2 separate regions of the Homo sapiens genome follow, and region 1 is linked to region 2. A link means that fine-mapping ties the variant in region 2 to the expression of a gene that starts in the linked region. Tissue or cell type: monocytes. Region 2 holds a variant in brackets; the other region holds the start of a gene. All regions are shown on one strand. Distances are between the middles of the regions.

The links. PIP is the estimated chance that this variant, and not a neighbour inherited with it, causes the effect.
Region 1: ZMAT3 starts here. The variant in region 2 is fine-mapped to the expression of ZMAT3 in monocytes (Fairfax 2014, PIP 0.95).

What each region holds. Positions count from the first base shown.
Region 1 is chr3:179,067,530-179,075,758 of GRCh38, forward strand. It overlaps ZMAT3 (zinc finger matrin-type 3), which reads right to left and starts at 4,280. Exons shown (of 6, transcript NM_022470.4): 1 at 4,066-4,280; 2 at 1-280. The coding sequence starts at 223. RefSeq lists silencers at 4,007-4,156, 4,297-4,706.
Region 2 is chr3:179,008,523-179,016,751 of GRCh38, forward strand. No RefSeq gene overlaps it. Among named protein-coding and RNA genes, the nearest start is that of ZMAT3, 59 kb to the right of the region's middle. The variant T/TA (reference allele first, on the strand shown) is at 2,998.

The sequences.
Region 1 (8,229 bases), 59 kb after region 2:
AGAGTTTGCAGTACAGGGGCTTACATAGCTCCTCCAGGGCACAGTCTTGCTCCCCTCCCTTCGATAACTCTTCTTCCCCTGCAAGAGGCAAGGAAGCCTCCTGCCCAAAAGGCTTCTGTGGTGGAAGCTGCAAGGTTCCTGTAGACCTGGTGGCCACTGACATAGGAGGCGAGGGTGAGGGCTGCTTAGGTGGAGGAAGCACGGCGTGTTGCAAGAGGATCATTGGGTAGGGAAGCCTGGGGCATAATCCAGTGGGTGATGAGAAGCAAGGTCTTCAAATCTGAATCAACAGCAAAAAAACAGAAAAAAAAACTCACTTGAAAATCAGACTTCAGCAAGATAACATGTAAATGACAACATAATCTGACCCTTTCTTCTACTTCTCCAAACCCATCTTTGGGACTTCTTTCCTTTGGCCTCATTTAGCAGACTTCCCCTGCCTGTTAATTCATGTTAACACGGTGCTCTTCCACTGAGAATGGCTTTATAGATTTGGCTTTATTTTGCTTGGCACAGTTCCAACTGCTATCCCTTTGGCCCGTGAACATTAACAGCATTGCATCCACGGCTAAATCTAAAAGTCACATGGCTGAAATGGACATCAAATGTCACCTAGTCCAGACCCCTTCCCTCAGGCACACTTACACTTAAACACTCTTAATGATAATCATGCACAGACAAAAACACCACGAGCTGTCCAGGTGTGGTGGCTCACGCCTGTAATCCCAGCATTTTGGGAGGCCAAGGTGGGCAGATCACCTGAGGTCAGGAGTTCGAGACCAGCCTGTTCAAGACAACATGGTGAAACCCCGTCTCTACTAAAAATACAAAAATTAGCCAGGTGTGGTGGCGAGTGCCTGTAATCCCAGCTACTCAGGAGGCTGAGGCAGGAGAATCGCTTGAACCGGGGAGGCAGAGGTGGTCGTGAGCCGAGATCGTGCCATTGCACTCCAGCCTGGGTGACAGAGCAAGACTGTGACTCAAAAAAAAAAAAGACCACCAGCTAAAAATCTTAGCAAACATATCTTCCAACCAACCAATATCAAAAAGAGTGTATAAAAGAATATCATCTTGCAGAATTCTTAAAGCACTTATAGAACTAGCTAAAATTTCAGGGAACTCTAGGAGTAGCCTAAAGTATGACAGAAATAAATAAAATATGTTCCTTCTGATCAACTAGCAATATTTAAGTAGTTGAGCAAATGTATAGCAGAGGTGGCAAACAGCCTGTGGGCCACATACAGCCACAGATGTGCTGTTTGGAATATACAGTTTTGTTTTCATTTTTTTAAGTCGAATTAGTTGTTAGCATTTAAAAATCAAGAGATTCATGGCTTCTCTTGAAAAAGGATGATCTGGCATCACTTGGCCCACATTCCTATATGGGACGCAATTAGCTAGTTAGTGCTCAGAGGCACTGTGCCCTCTAGCGAGGCCTGCCTTCTCTGGGACACCTCAGTCCCCACTCAGCTGCTGCCTGTACTTGTTACTTGCCTGTTCTCTGTGAGCTCTTGAGTTTACAGCCCTGCCTCATACAGCCTTAGATTATATTCATCAGCCCCTGTAAAACCCAAATTTTTCCTCCTTCTCTAGGTAAATTACCTACACAAAATAAGGTATCAAGGAAATGTCCAATGGAGTAATGGATCACACCACCATAAGCCACAGTATAATTCCAGTTCCTCAATCTTGAGGCTATTTCCCTCCTCCTTCTTAACAAATAACTGATAGTCTCTATTATAATTCCCTCAGAAAAGACCCAAAATGTTCCTCTCCCTCTTCAATCTTTATCCATAATGTCTCCTGCCTCCCCCCCAGATGGCGCCGTCTAACCCTGAGTGTCTCAAAATGAACCACAGTACACCCTTTGAGTTCCCAAGATTCTAATTAACCCAAATTAGAATCCTTATTTCAAAATCCACAATTCCCTCCACTCTCTCAATACAGTATTATTAAAACCTCTTCTCTTGGTCAATAGAATATGGCTATTTTAAGCTGCTGAAATTTTCCATCTGCAATGGAAATGTGTACATTATGGCAATAATAGAATTACTAAAATGAATCAAGTAAATTTTGAAAAGTTAAAGTCTATTTTACCATATTTGATAACTACACAGCACCTGAAAATCAAGTAACAACTTTCAGACGAAATTTGGGGTGGGGAGGCAACAAAGGAAATCAGCGTGATGGGAAAATAATGTAGTTAAGGACAAAGTGCATAAGTATTAGTCATAGAATTTAACAATACTTCTCATTAATCACAAAATTTAGAAAAATGATAATATTATTTAATTTTTAAGCAGAAGTGTACTGCCCATATCTCTGGGAACATAAAAGAAAAGCAATATAGAGTTTTAACATTTAAAAAGTCAGGTTCTCTGTAATGGTATTATTTCTCTTAATTGAATCAAGCAAAGATAGTCCAGAAAGCAAAGACAGATATGGTCATTTTAGAAAACGGAACTAAGTAGACAAAGAACAGCTTTTAAAAAGTTTAACTACCTAATAATAATAATTCATAATGTTGAAAAGCTACTGATGTCAAATTGCCACAAACATTCTGCTAGTTCATTAGTGAAAAGGTGGGGGGGGGTGTCAAAACCTCTGGATAAAGGAAATCAGCAATATAAACAGAAAATCAAATGCTACCAATTGCCTAGGCATGTCTGGACTTGTTTTATGAAAGCTCACTTTCACTTGAGGAAATTCTAGCATGTGTCTCCCCCAGTGTTATCTACAGGTTTCCCTCAAAATAAAGATCCTTCTCAAAGAACAGAGGCACAAAAGGCCTCCTACCAGAGGTGACAGTTACCTGATTTAAAGAAAAAATTCTTGCCAAACACAGATTTACCCATTATCACATTTGATCTTTACAATTTTTAAAGAGTAGCTTGATATCCCAAATTTATTTCTTGTTATATTTAACAATCAACACAATGTCGACTCCTCAAAAAAATCTATGTATGACAATTGCATCAAATATTAGTACATTTGCAAACAAAAATTAGTATAAAATATAAATCTTAAAATGAATAAAACCAAGTCTTCAGTGAATGCATGAATGATGGAATACAGAGACCCAAAACATGCAACTCAGATCTGTTCAACTGTTGCATTGGTTTAAAAGGGACTAATTTGAAGACTGGCATAAATATTCTTCAAATCTTAAAAACCAGTCACTTTGATGCTTGCGATGGCATAAATGAAGGATTTATGCTGGTTAATGTCCTGGTTTGGAAAGGAGCTAAGACGACATTAAAGAAAATCAAAGCTTCACAAGGTACCCTGTTTAAAGAAAATTAATTGTCATAGCATACTTAGTTTTAATGATTGGACTGGGGCCTACTCTTCACATACTGTGTTAAAGACAATCTCTTGTCTCATTTGGAGAAATCTACAGAGGAAAGAGAATAGAATAAAGGAACAGGTTAGGAGCACCTCAGCAAACTAGGTAAGTCTGTAATTGGGAATTCTGGAAATGAGGGAAAGGCAGCGAGCATTACTCAGAGGTCATCAGAACGCAGCAAGAAGGAATGAGAGGGAGAAAAGTTAAAAAAAATAATAATAATAATCACTTGAGGCAAGGTGTATCCTATAAAGAAGGCTCAAAAGAACGCAGAAAACTGGGGAAGAGGCCTTGGTGAATTGGCGAATGTTTTTCAGTCTCCGCTGTGACGGTTCCTAATCCTAGAGAACTGTTTACAGATTTGAATCAAAGCTACAGACAGTTCAGCGTCGCCCACATCCACCTTACATTCCTAAGATGTGCATGCATACACACGAACCCACACACGCACCTCAACCCGGTATGGATGCCATCACGAAGGATGGAATCCCCCGACTCCCACGGGGCGGGGGCAACTGAGAGGGCCAAGGCAGCTGCACGCACAGATGATCCACCTGGTCCACGTGAAATGCCTGAAACAAGCAAACTGATAAATAGAAGCAGCGCAAGCCCTGTCACGTGGAGGGCAGATGGAAAGAGCATCGGAAAGGAACCGCTAGTCCCCGGCGCTCCAGGGGCTCGTCCTGAAAGCTCCGCGGCTCCCAATCGCCCGCACTTACCGGAACCCCCGGGACGCGCCGGCAGTCTCCGCGCCGCGTCCGCCCGGGACGCCCGCGACGCCCGCCCTGCGCGCCCGGCTCGGCCCAGCTCGACCCAGCCTCTTCTCGGAGCAACTTTCTCCGCCGGCCGCCGCCGAGCCCCCTCCGCAGCCGAAGGCTGACTGTCAAAAGTCAGTCCAACCCGACCCACAGGGAAACAGCTGCAGGAAGTGACTGCGGAACCGGGAGGCGGTGGAGGAGGAGACTGAGGGCGCCGGCTCGGCGTCGCCACTGCGCATGTGCTTGGCGGAGCAGGCCCGGCAGCGGTGGCAGCGGTAGCAGTGGCGGCTCCCGCATCCCCGGCGGGCGGCGCGTGGGTCAGGTGCCCTGGCCGCGAGCGCAGGGGCGCGGGGTTAGGCCGGCGTGGGGAACAAAGGCACGAGTGAGAGGCGGGAGGGTCCCGCCGCCAATCTCAGCAGACAGCCCCGAAGAGCAGTTCAGCAGATGCCCTGGAAAGTTAATCCTTGGTAGAAGCCTGGGCAGAGCTTTTGCAACTTTCATCTCCAGTCATTGGGATCCAAACATTGTTCATTCTGTTCCTCCCTTAGCCTGCTGGTTGGCGGTTAAGGCGGCTGAGTGGATCCTTTAAACTGCTGCAACAGAACCTTTAAACTGCTGCTCTCCCCACTTCCGCCCCAGGATGGAGGAAGAAGAGCGTGGCTGCCTGCCCAGTATCGGCCTCCCTCACACAAAACGCCCCCACCCACCCACACACACACCTTCCCTCCCCTACACGAAAGTGAGCAGGAGATAGAGGAGACTTTCTCCTGACCCCCAGAGGCTCACCTGCAAGACAGGAAGGACCAGGAAAAGAGTGGCCAACGCTAGGATGTCACATCCTTCATAACCAACCTGGACATCTTCAATGTTAACACTGAGTGATGAGCTGAGGAAATTCCGGCTCTAAACTTATAGCGTAAATTAACTCGTATGAAGATCTGCTGGGGTATTATTTTTGTGTGTGGCAAACGATAACAAATATACTACTTTAAGAGTACAGGCCGGGCGCGGTGGCTCACGCCTGTAATCCCAACACTTTGGGAGGCCGAGGCGGGTGGATCACGGGGTCAGGAGATCGAGACCATCCTGGCTAACACGGTGAAACCCAATCTCTACTAAAAATACAAAAATATTAGCCAGGCGTGGTGGTGGGCGCCTGTAGTCCCAGCTACTCGGGAGGCTGAGGCAGGAGAATGGCGTGAACCCGGGAGGCGGAGCTTGCAGTGAGCCGAGATCGCGCCGCTGCACTCCAGCCTGGGTGACAGAGCGAGACTCCGTCTCAAAAAAAAAAAAAAAAAAAGTACAGTTCAGTGGCATTAAGTACATTTGCATTATTGTGTGGTTATTTTTTAAAACACGAATTAAAATGCCAAGGAGATCTAAGTATAGTAAGATGTGCCCTATTAGTAGGGAAACAACTGCAGGAAATCAAGGCTGTTTCTTTGGCTGAAAAATGCACCAATCCAATACCAACAACAACAAACCATAAAAGACTTCATAAGTACAATGAATATGAAGTACAAACATATACACACAGTGTACACCAGCCATTTGGGGAGAGTAATCCATCACCTGAATTGTTTTTCCAGCTGTATAGGTACATTTACTTTATGTGTCACTATTTTAAAGGGCTATATTGTTTCTAAAATAATAAATGCTGCTAAAATCCACTCTCCAGCCCCTTTTCTATATGGTCTTTAGCCAGTCTTAGAACTTCACAGTCCACACTCCTTATCTAGGACCACAAGTAGGCCTTGCGGAGCCTTTCCGATCTGACCTTCCACCAGTCTCCCCTCATCATTTCACTCACACCCCCATCCATGCCCCTTCATTTCCTGCCTCTGTAATTTAGCTCTGTCTGCATCTTGAATACAAAATGCTTTCTCTCCCCTCCCCTTGAATTGTCAAATCCTACCTGTCCTTCCAGGCCTCTTCTTTCATGAGGTCCCACAGCACTTTTCTCCGCACACCTTGATGACACACTATTTGTTGTCCCACATTATAATTACTTAAGAGATATTTCCTCTGCCCTGTAAATACCTTGAGTCCAGGAAGGATAAATGTCTTGGAGTTTTCAAGTTTTATGTTTGATAGTTTGATGTGTTCTTGTCCATCAGGATGAAAATCTGAACAATTCCATGTTCTCTGCTCACATACTCTTCTCAGACAGCTAGGGCATTTCCTTCCCTGCCTCGGGGAGAAAGAAAAGGCAAATCTGATGCTTGTGTAATAGATATTTGAAGCTCATGGCAGTGACAGTAGTCTCATAAGTCAGAGTTTGTAGTTTAGAATTGGCTGGACTTCATGAGTTTCAGCACATGAGGTGAAAGGAAAAAAAGCCACAAACAATATATTCATCACTTTTGCGGTTGAAAAAAAAAAAAATGGCTGATGGCCACAAAGGTTTATTTCTTATTTGTATTACATGCTGGGTCAGCTGAGGTTCTGCTCCATGGGTCTCCTCAATCCAGTGCCCAAGCTGAAGAAGCTGCCCCTATGTAGAACTTGGCAATTCTCAAGGGAGATGGGAAGAGCCAGAAAGCTGTTAGAAACTTGTGAAGCCTCTTAAAGCTGCTTCTCTAATGTCTCATGACATGTCTACTCAAATCCCATTGGCCAAGGTCTTTCATATGGCCAAACCCCAAGTAAGTGGAGAAGTCTACTTCTTTCATAGGCAAATCACATGGCAATGGGCATGGATTGTAATTTTTTTGGAGTGGGGGTTGTGTGGTTAATTGTAAACAATAATGCAATCTGCCACAAAGATGGGGGAACCAATTTTCTCTCCCCAGAGATATTGGTGTATGTCCCAAAGAAAGGCCTATAAATCCCCACCCACCCACCAGCCACACACACCCAGTCGTTGGGATTCCTTTGAAAGAAACTGTGGAGCTAGAAATAATACAATTCCCACATGTGTGAAGATCTAGAGATTGGGGGCATCTGAGCTCTATTCCCAGTGGGGATCAGAAAAGCAATCAAGGTCTAGGGTTTTGCCTCAATAAGTCAAAAGAGAGTAGGATGTTAGCCTGAACTGTTTCAGCCAGAGGAATGCCCCTAAACTTTTTTTTTTTTTTTTTTTAGTATTTATGGCATTAGAGACTATTCAAGGGAGCTGACAGCTGTAGGGGGCTGATGAGCCTACAGGTCGGAAAGGGGAAGGATAGAACTGAATGAACAGAGCACTGATCTGATAGCAGAGAAAAAATAGACATCGCCTATTGAGGTCAAAGCCAAGGCGTGTTTGCACTGATGTCTACTTCCTCTTGCCACCTGCCTCCCCACTTCACCCAACCCCACCCCAAATTTTAGGGTTATCCTCAGAAAAATAAGGGGAAGCAGATCATTTTGAAGTGAATAGATATTAGCCAGAAATGACTTGGAGACAGGAGAGATTTGTGGGTAATAGAAATACATGTAGAATTGACTAATTTGTTTCTCTCTTGAAAAAGAACAGGATCTCAACATTGAGACTAATTTTAATTACTTTTTTAAAAGCAACGTTTTTATACACTGACTTTCATGACCTGATATAGTATAACCAGTACATTTGGATGACCATAGTTGATTGCATAAATGTATGAATGAATGAGGAATTTATTTTCTGCATTCTGTAATAGGCATTATAGTGCCTGCCTATGTACTTCACTGCAATGTTTCCTTTTTTAATGTAACTATTATGTGGGAAACTCTCTGAATTTATCAGAAAGGAACTCTCATATTAAAATAAGGATAATTATTTTTCATTATGCTAGACCGTATATTGAGAAAATCTACATTTGTATTTATTTACCAAGGAGATGGTCCTAACACACTTAACTTTTGGTGGCATGGCTTTAGGTTTTGGGAATCTGTCCAGAAAGCTACATGATGTACTCACAATCAGGAGAAAAACACACATCCCTCTCCAGGGACTGATACAATTCGTCAGGTCAGATCCTCTCTTGTATGGGAGTTTGTGTCATCCTTTGAGACTCCACATACCTTTTCTTTCATAACACATAATGTCTTCCAGACCGACTTCTTTCTTTAAATCATCAGAGAATGCCTCCAACATTCATTGTCTCTCATAATAACCTCGGCTTTTCAACACAATCCTTCCTTACAATCAGAGTAAAGCAATAC
Region 2 (8,229 bases):
AAGAATAAAAGAGAGAAGACTCAAATAAATAAAATCAGAGATGAAAAAGGTGATATTACAACTGATACCTCAGAAAGCAAAGGATAATTAGTGGCTAGTTTGAGTAACTATATGGCAATGAATTGGAAAATATGGAAGAAACTGGCAAAACGCTAGACACATACAACCTATAAAAATTAAACCATGAAGAAATCCCAAACCCAAACAGACCAAAAAAAAAAAATAAAAAAATCTCCCAGTAAGGGAAGCCCAGGATCCAATGGCTTCACTGCTGAATTCTACCAAATGTTTAAAGGAGAACTGATACCAATTCCACTGAAACTATTATAGAGGAGGGAATACTTTCAAATTCATTCTACAAAGCCAGTATTCCCTGATGTCAAAACCAGGCAAAATTCATCAAAAAAAGAAAACTACAGGCTAATATCTCTGATAAATATTAATGCAAAAATATTCAACAAAATACTAGCAAACCTAATTCAACAATATATTAAAAAGATAATTCATCATAACCAAGTGAGATTTATTCCAGGGATGCAAGAATGACTCAACATATAAAAATCAATCAATGTGATACAGCATATCATCAGAATGAAAGACAAAAACTATATGATTATTTCAACTGAGGCTGAGCAAGCATTTGACAAAGTTCAACATTCTTTCATGATAAAAACTCACAAAAAAACTGGGAATAGGAGAAATACACCTCAACATAATAAAAGCTACATATAACAGACCCACAGATAGTATCATACTGAACAGATAAAAAAACGAAATGAAAGCCTTTCCTCTAAGAGCAGGAACACAACAAGAATGCCCACTTTTACCACTGTTATTCAACATAGTACTGAAAGTCTTAGCTAGAATGATCGGATATGAGAAAAAAATAAAGGGTATCAAATTGAAATGGAAGAAGTGAAATTATCCTTGTTTGCAAATGATATGATCTTACATTTGGAAAAACTTAAAGACGCAACCAAAACACTATTAGAACTGATAAATAAATTCAGTAAAGTTGCAGGACATAAAATGAACATACAAAAATCAGTAACATTTCTATATGCCAACAGTGAACAATCTGAAAAAGAAATTTAAAAAGTAATCCCATTTATGATAGCCAAACGTAAAATTAAATACTTAGGAATTAACCAAGGAAGTGAAAGATCTCTATAATGAAAACTATAAAACACTGATGAAATAAATTGGACACCAAGAAATGGAAAGAAATCCCATGTTCATGGATTGGAAGAATCAATATTGTTAAAATGTCCACACTACCCAAAGCAATCTACAGATTTAATGTAATCCCTATTCACATACCAATGACATTCTTCACAGAAATAGAAAAAACAATCCTAAAATGTTTATGAAACCATAAAAGACCCAGACTAGCCAAAGCTATCCTGAGTGCAAAGAACAAAACTGTAGGAATCACACTAGCTAATTTCAAATTATACTACAGAGCTATGGTAACCAAAACAACATGGTACTGGCACAAGAACAGACACATAGACCAATGGAACAGAATAGAAAACCCAGAAACAAATCCATACACCTACAGTGAATACATTTTCAACAAAGGTGCCAAAAGTGTACATTACAGAAAAGACAGTCTCTTCAATAAATTGTGCTGGGAAAACTGGATAACCATATGCAGAAGAACAAATTTTATCTATATCTCTTGTGTTATATAAAAATCAAACGAAACCGGATTAAAGACTTAAATCTAAGACCTCAAACTATGAATTTACTACAATAAAACACTGGGGAAATTCTCCAGGACATTGTTCTGGGCAAAATTTTGAGTAATACCTCACAAGCACAGGCAATCAAAGCAAAAATGGATAAAGAGGATCGCATCAAGTTTAAAAGCTTCTGTACAGAAAAGGCAACAAGCAATAAAGTGAAGAGACAACCCACAGAATGAGAGCAAATATTTACAAACTACCCATCTGACAAAAGATTAATAACCAGAATATATAAGGAGCTCAAACAACTCTACAGGAAAAAAATCTAATAATCTGATTTAAAATAAGCAAGAGATTTGAACAAACATTTCTCAAAAGAAGAAACACAAATGACAAACAGGCATATGAAAAGGTGTTCAATATCATTGATTATCAGAGAAATGCAAATCAAAACTACAGTGAGATATCATCTTACCCCAGTTAAAATGGCTTATATAGAAAAGACAGGCAATAACAAATGCCAGTGAGGATTTGGAGAAAAGGAAACGCTCATACCCTGTTGGTGGGAAAGTAAATTAGTAAAACCACTTTGAAGAAGTTTTGAGATTCCTCAAAAAACTAAAAATTCAGCTACCATGCAATCCAGCAATCCCATTGCTGGGCATATACCCAAAAGAAAGGAAATCAGTATATCAAGGAGATATCTGTACTCCCATATTTGTTGTAGCACTGTTCACCATAGCCAAAATTTGGAAGCACCCTAAGTGTCCATCAATAGATGAATGCATAAAGAAAATGTGATACCTATACATAATGGAGTACTCTGCAGCCACAAAAAAGAATGAGATTCTATTATTTGCAACAACAAAGGATGGAATTGGAGGTCAATATATTAAGTGAAATAAGCCAGGCACAGAAAGATAAATGCATGTTCTCACTTATTTATGAGATCTAAAAATCAAAACAATTGAACTCATGGAGATAGAGTGTAGACTGATGGTTACCAGAGGCTGGGAAGGGTAGTGAGGGGAGGGGAGGAAGTGGGGATGGTTAATGGGTACAAAAAAGTAGTTAGAAAGAGTGAATAAGACCTAGTATTTGATAGCATACCAGGTTGACTATAGTTAATAATAATTTACCTGTACGTTTTAAAATAACTAAAAGAGTATAATTGGATTGTTTGTAATACAAAGGACGAATGCTTGAGGGGATGGATACCCAATTTTCCATGATGTGATTATTATGCATTGCATGCCTGTACCAAAATATCTCATGTACCCCATGTATACACCTATGTACCCACAAAAAC[T/TA]AAAAAAAAAAAAAAAAAAAACTACAACCCAGGAAAATCTGCCAGATTGCCACTGCCTGTCTGTTTCAACTGAAGATGTTTCTAACCCAAATCTGGCCATCTTCTCAACTGACTGCCCTCCAGACTCTAAAGAAACTAATTTATAGGCTGTTCCAAATGTTAACGTTATTTTTCTCTGTTTTCATAGAAATGTCTCTTATCAAAGATGTTTGGCCTAACTTTGAGAGCCCATCTGCAATGCCACCTGTTGCAATGGGAAACAACAGTTTAACTGATGTAGTATCACAACTAAGAGACGGATTCAAGAAGATATGGCATGACATACTTATATTTGTTCTTTTCTGCTTATCCCAATTTGTTTTGCTCCCTCTTATCTCAAAACTTCTAACCCAAATCTCTCCATAGCTACCAATCCTACTTTAATAAGTGACACTTCTGTGTTTTTTTTTTTTTTTTGAGACAGGGTCTCTCTCTGTCACTCAGGATAGAGTGGCACAACCTCAGGTCACTGCAACCTCCCCCTCAAGGCTCAAGTGATCCTCCAACCTCCCCCTCAAGGCTCAAGTGATCCTCCCACCTCAGCCTCCTGAATAGCTGGGACTACAGGCACGTGCCACCATGGCTAGCTAATTATTTTTTTTTTTTCTGTAGAGATGGGCTTTTGCCATATTTCCCAGGCTGATCTCAAACTCCTGGGCTCAAGCGATCCACCCACCTCAGCCTCCTGAAGTGTTGAGATTACAGGCATGAGCCACTGCGCCCAAACATTAATAAGCGAAACGTTCTAAAGTTTCAAGTGGGGGACTAAAGGAAACTAAGAAATGTTTCACTCCAAAATATACTTCTTTGACATATTTTGAGATGACTATTCAGAGGGCCTGCAACACAAGAATCAGCCTGCAAAGCTGAGTCTTTTACGGGGATTTGCATCTCTAGAGGAAATAAAGTGAAGTAAACAACAGATGCAAACAGGCTTTTTCTGAAGCCCCACCTTGTCCAGAACAAGGCAAGATTAACTGAGAGCCTGACACCTTTAAAGGTTTTATAGAAACATCTACCACAGGCTCCCATCTCTTTTTTTTTTTTTTTTTTTTTTTTGAGATGGAGTCTTGCTCTGTCGCCCAGGCTAGAGTGCAGTGGTGTGCTCTCAGCTCACTGCAACCTCCGCCTCCCGGGTTCAAGCTATTCTCCTGCCTCAGCCTCCCAAGTAGCTGGGACTATAAGCACCCGCTACCACACCCAGCTAATTTTGTATTTTTAGTAGAGACGGGGTTTCACCATGTTGTCCAGGCTGGTCTCGAACTCCTGACCTCAGGTGATCCACTTGCCTTGGTCTCCCAAAGTGCTGGGATTACAGGCATGAGCCACCGTACCTGGCCTCCCATTTTTCCTTTCTGAGGGCTGCTACCTGTGAGATCATCTGCATAACAAGACCACCTTTGCAGCACACCTTGCCTCTTCTCTCCTTCCCATAACCTCTCATGCCACCATAACCTGTCTTGACAAGCTTCAAGCCCCTATTCTTTCTGTAACCTCAAGATAGTATTAAAGAGTTGTGAATGGAAAATAAAATTTTGGGACCCCCTATTCACCATACCTAAGGGAAAAAGTCAAGCTTGAGAACTGAGTCACACAAAACTGCCTCCCATTTTGTTCCTCAACAGCTACAAAGATGAAAGACTACCTACATACCTCCCTCGCAATTTGCTCACGAGCAAATTTTTTGTGGGCCCTCAAGATCCTTACCCTAAAACAGTTCTGTTGAATTTCACCCTGACAATAACAAACAATTTATCTTCAGAAGAACGGGACAAAGGATAGAACCAGAAGTCATACCTCTGCTCACCTGAGACAAATGCATATTTGACTGCTTCCTCTATTCTGTTTACTTATCTTATGTAAAAACGTAGATTCACTGAGCATGAGACAAATGCCTCTACCCTCTCCTTTCACATGTAAAATGTGGATCCACTGAACGCTGATGAAATCTTCAAAAGATTGCAACTTCTTGCCTCTTTCATCTACACTTCTTTTCTCTCCTGCCCATGTTTTCCCCTTTAAATATGGAAGCACTCAAAATCCTCTTTGGAAAAAAAGTGTGGGCCACAGATTCTATTGTGGCTAGTGGCTTTTTTTCCTGGGTGTATCATCAACCTTGGCAAAATAACTCTCAGTTGATTGAGATCTGTCTCAGATACTTTTTGGTTTACAGCATCAGCTGTCTGGACATTTGAGTTTTTCATATTTTGTATGACTCCCATGCCCATATGTACATTAATAAATCTGTATGCCTTTTTTCCTGTTAATCCATGGTCAGTTTGTTTTACAGACTCAAATTATCAAAGCTTCAGTGAAAAAAATTAAACTTTTATACACTTTGCATATATAAAATAATTTATAATTTTCCAAGTCTTCAGCTATGTACACCTATGGTCACAGTAGCATTATTCACAATAGCTAAAAGGTAGAAGCAACGTAAGTGTCCATCAGTGGATGAATAAACAAAATGTCATCGATACATGCAATGGGATATTATTCAGCCTTAAAAAGGAAGGAAAGTTGATAAATGCTTGAGGTGATAAGATACCCCAATTACCCTGATTTGATCATTACACATTGAATGTTTGTATCAAAATGACACATGTACCCCATAAATACGTACAATATTATATATCCCTAATTAAAAATAATTTTTAAAAATGAAGGAAATTCTGATACATACTACGACATGGATGAACCTTGAGGACATTATGCCAAGTGAAATACGCCAGACACAAAAGGACAATTGTCATATGATTCCACTTATATGAGGTACCTCAAGTAGTCAAAATCATAGAGACAGAAAGTAGAATGGTGGTTACCAGGGACTGGGGAAGAGAGAATGTGGAGTTATTGTTTAATGAGTAAAATTTCCGTTTGGGAAGATAAAAAATTTCTGGAGATGGAGAGTGATTATGATTGTAAACTAAATGGTTAAAATGGTAAATTTTATATGTTTTGCTATTTTTAAGGGTTTAATTTTTTTAAATTATTATTACATAAATGTCCATCAATAGAGGATCAATAACAGAAATTTTAGAAATCATACAAGGAAACACCACAGAATGAAAAACAATGAAATAGATCCACATGTGCTGGTATGGAATGCTTGCCAAGGTCACACACACACACACACACATACACACACACACACATACCCCAAGGTGATGAACAGAACAGTAGGGATGGAATGCCTCCATTCACGTTACATAGACTTTATCTGGAAAAGACTCAAGAAACTGCTAACCGCGATCAATTGCCGCTGGGCAGGGGGGACATGGCAGCATGGAGTTCAGGAGTGAGTTCAGGACTTATGTATTTCGAAAAAAAAAAACAATTCTTTTTGAAAACAGCAATCTTCTAAATTATCCATAGTACTGAAAGAGAGGAATAAAGAAGAAATAACTAGATCCACCCCTAATACCCCAGTTATGGGGATCTGAATTTCAAGAGGTCAAGTGACAAGCCAGGGAACACACTGGTGACAGAACTGAGACCAGTTACCCAGTATGTACTTTTTCTGAATGTTTGAAATATTTAATAAAACTACTTTTTTAAAAAAGTCTCTTTCTTCATTGCTAGCTTATTAAAGCAGAAAATATTGTTTTCCCCAAAAATAAACTATGTTTGGGAAAATTTTAATATTTTATAGTTTAATTTTTATGTCAGCAAGATTTCCATGTTTGGTAACATTTGCCCTTGTATATAATTGTGTTTTTAAATTTTCAAGTCTTCTTTGATGAAAGATTTTTCTAGTCCTTTACTTCCTGGTTGGGGCCTTCATTGACCATTATTTTAATTTCCATGTTTGTTGTTGTTCACATAACCGAATATGTAGAGAACAGATTTTTTTAAACAAAATAGACGTTTTTAAATAATCACAAAAAATGAGACATTCACACATGCCTGTGCATATATATCTATCCATACATATATATGGATCCTGATTTCCAATTCAACACTTTCCCACTCTGTCATCCTTTACAGACTTAAGCTGCAAAAACAGTCCTCAGTATCTCTTAAAGGCATGACTTGTTTTATTTACAGATAAAAACTCATATCCTCCACAAGGTGGTTTTCAACCAAACATCCTGCTTTAAAGTTAGTTCACCAACCACAAACTGCTAACTGTAAAATCTAGACAGTCCACAAGGTGGCACTAGATACCGTTGGTCAAAGTCCATAACCTAGTAAGGATTTCTAGAAAACAGGGTTAGAGAGGTGCCTCTGGCATCAGCAAAGATGAAAAATTGAAGCTAATATGAAAGGCATCTTGTTCCTGTCTAGAGGGACAACTTCCAGCCAAAACACATTTGAAGCTCTAATTACATACTTAAAGATTTATCCAAAATGCCAAGCATAAGTTATAGACTGCCTATGGTGGAGTGTATTTCTTCCAGTGGCAAATTTACATCTGTTCCTTTGGACACACTTCATTACTAGCATATGATCATCTTAAACATGTTTCCATAAACTCCCTCCTAGTATACATTCCCCCTAAATATATATACACACATACACACACAGACTTGAAGATTAAAAACCATGAAATGTATTTTTAGGGGATTTTTTTTGGTAAGAACTCATAATCAGATCCCTTTAAAATAATATTCACGTTACACAATAGTTAACTGTCTTCATCTTTTTGTAATTCTTAATTTTCAAGTTATGAAGATCCCACAACTAAGAATTGTTGTGGTTTAAGCCTCAACTCAGATGATAAAAATCTTAAAACTCACATAAAAAGATCTATTTCTGATCTTTATAATCTTATATCAATTTATCATACATTGGGAAACTTTATCACCAGCCCTTTAAGAAATTATAAAGGATAACACCCAGCATTTGATCTTGAATAGATTTTCAGCCAATGAATGAGCCTCAGAAATGCCTTTAAAAAGGCTGAAAATCTGAAATCATTTAAGACTTTTTTGGTGCATATTATCATGGCTTTTTTAAAGCTAAGAATCTCCTGGAGATGATTTAATAAAATGTGCTGATGCCTTGAGTACTTTACAACACACAAATTCAGTGTGATCTATTCACTTCATTCAGAAACATTTTTTGTGTGTGCAGACCGAAGAATTTTTCCCACAACAGTAAGGGTATGTGTCTTGCATCCTGATTAATTAAAGCATAACAGCATCTTACAGCCTATAATCTACTTTTTTAAGTGAGCATTTAAATTCAAAA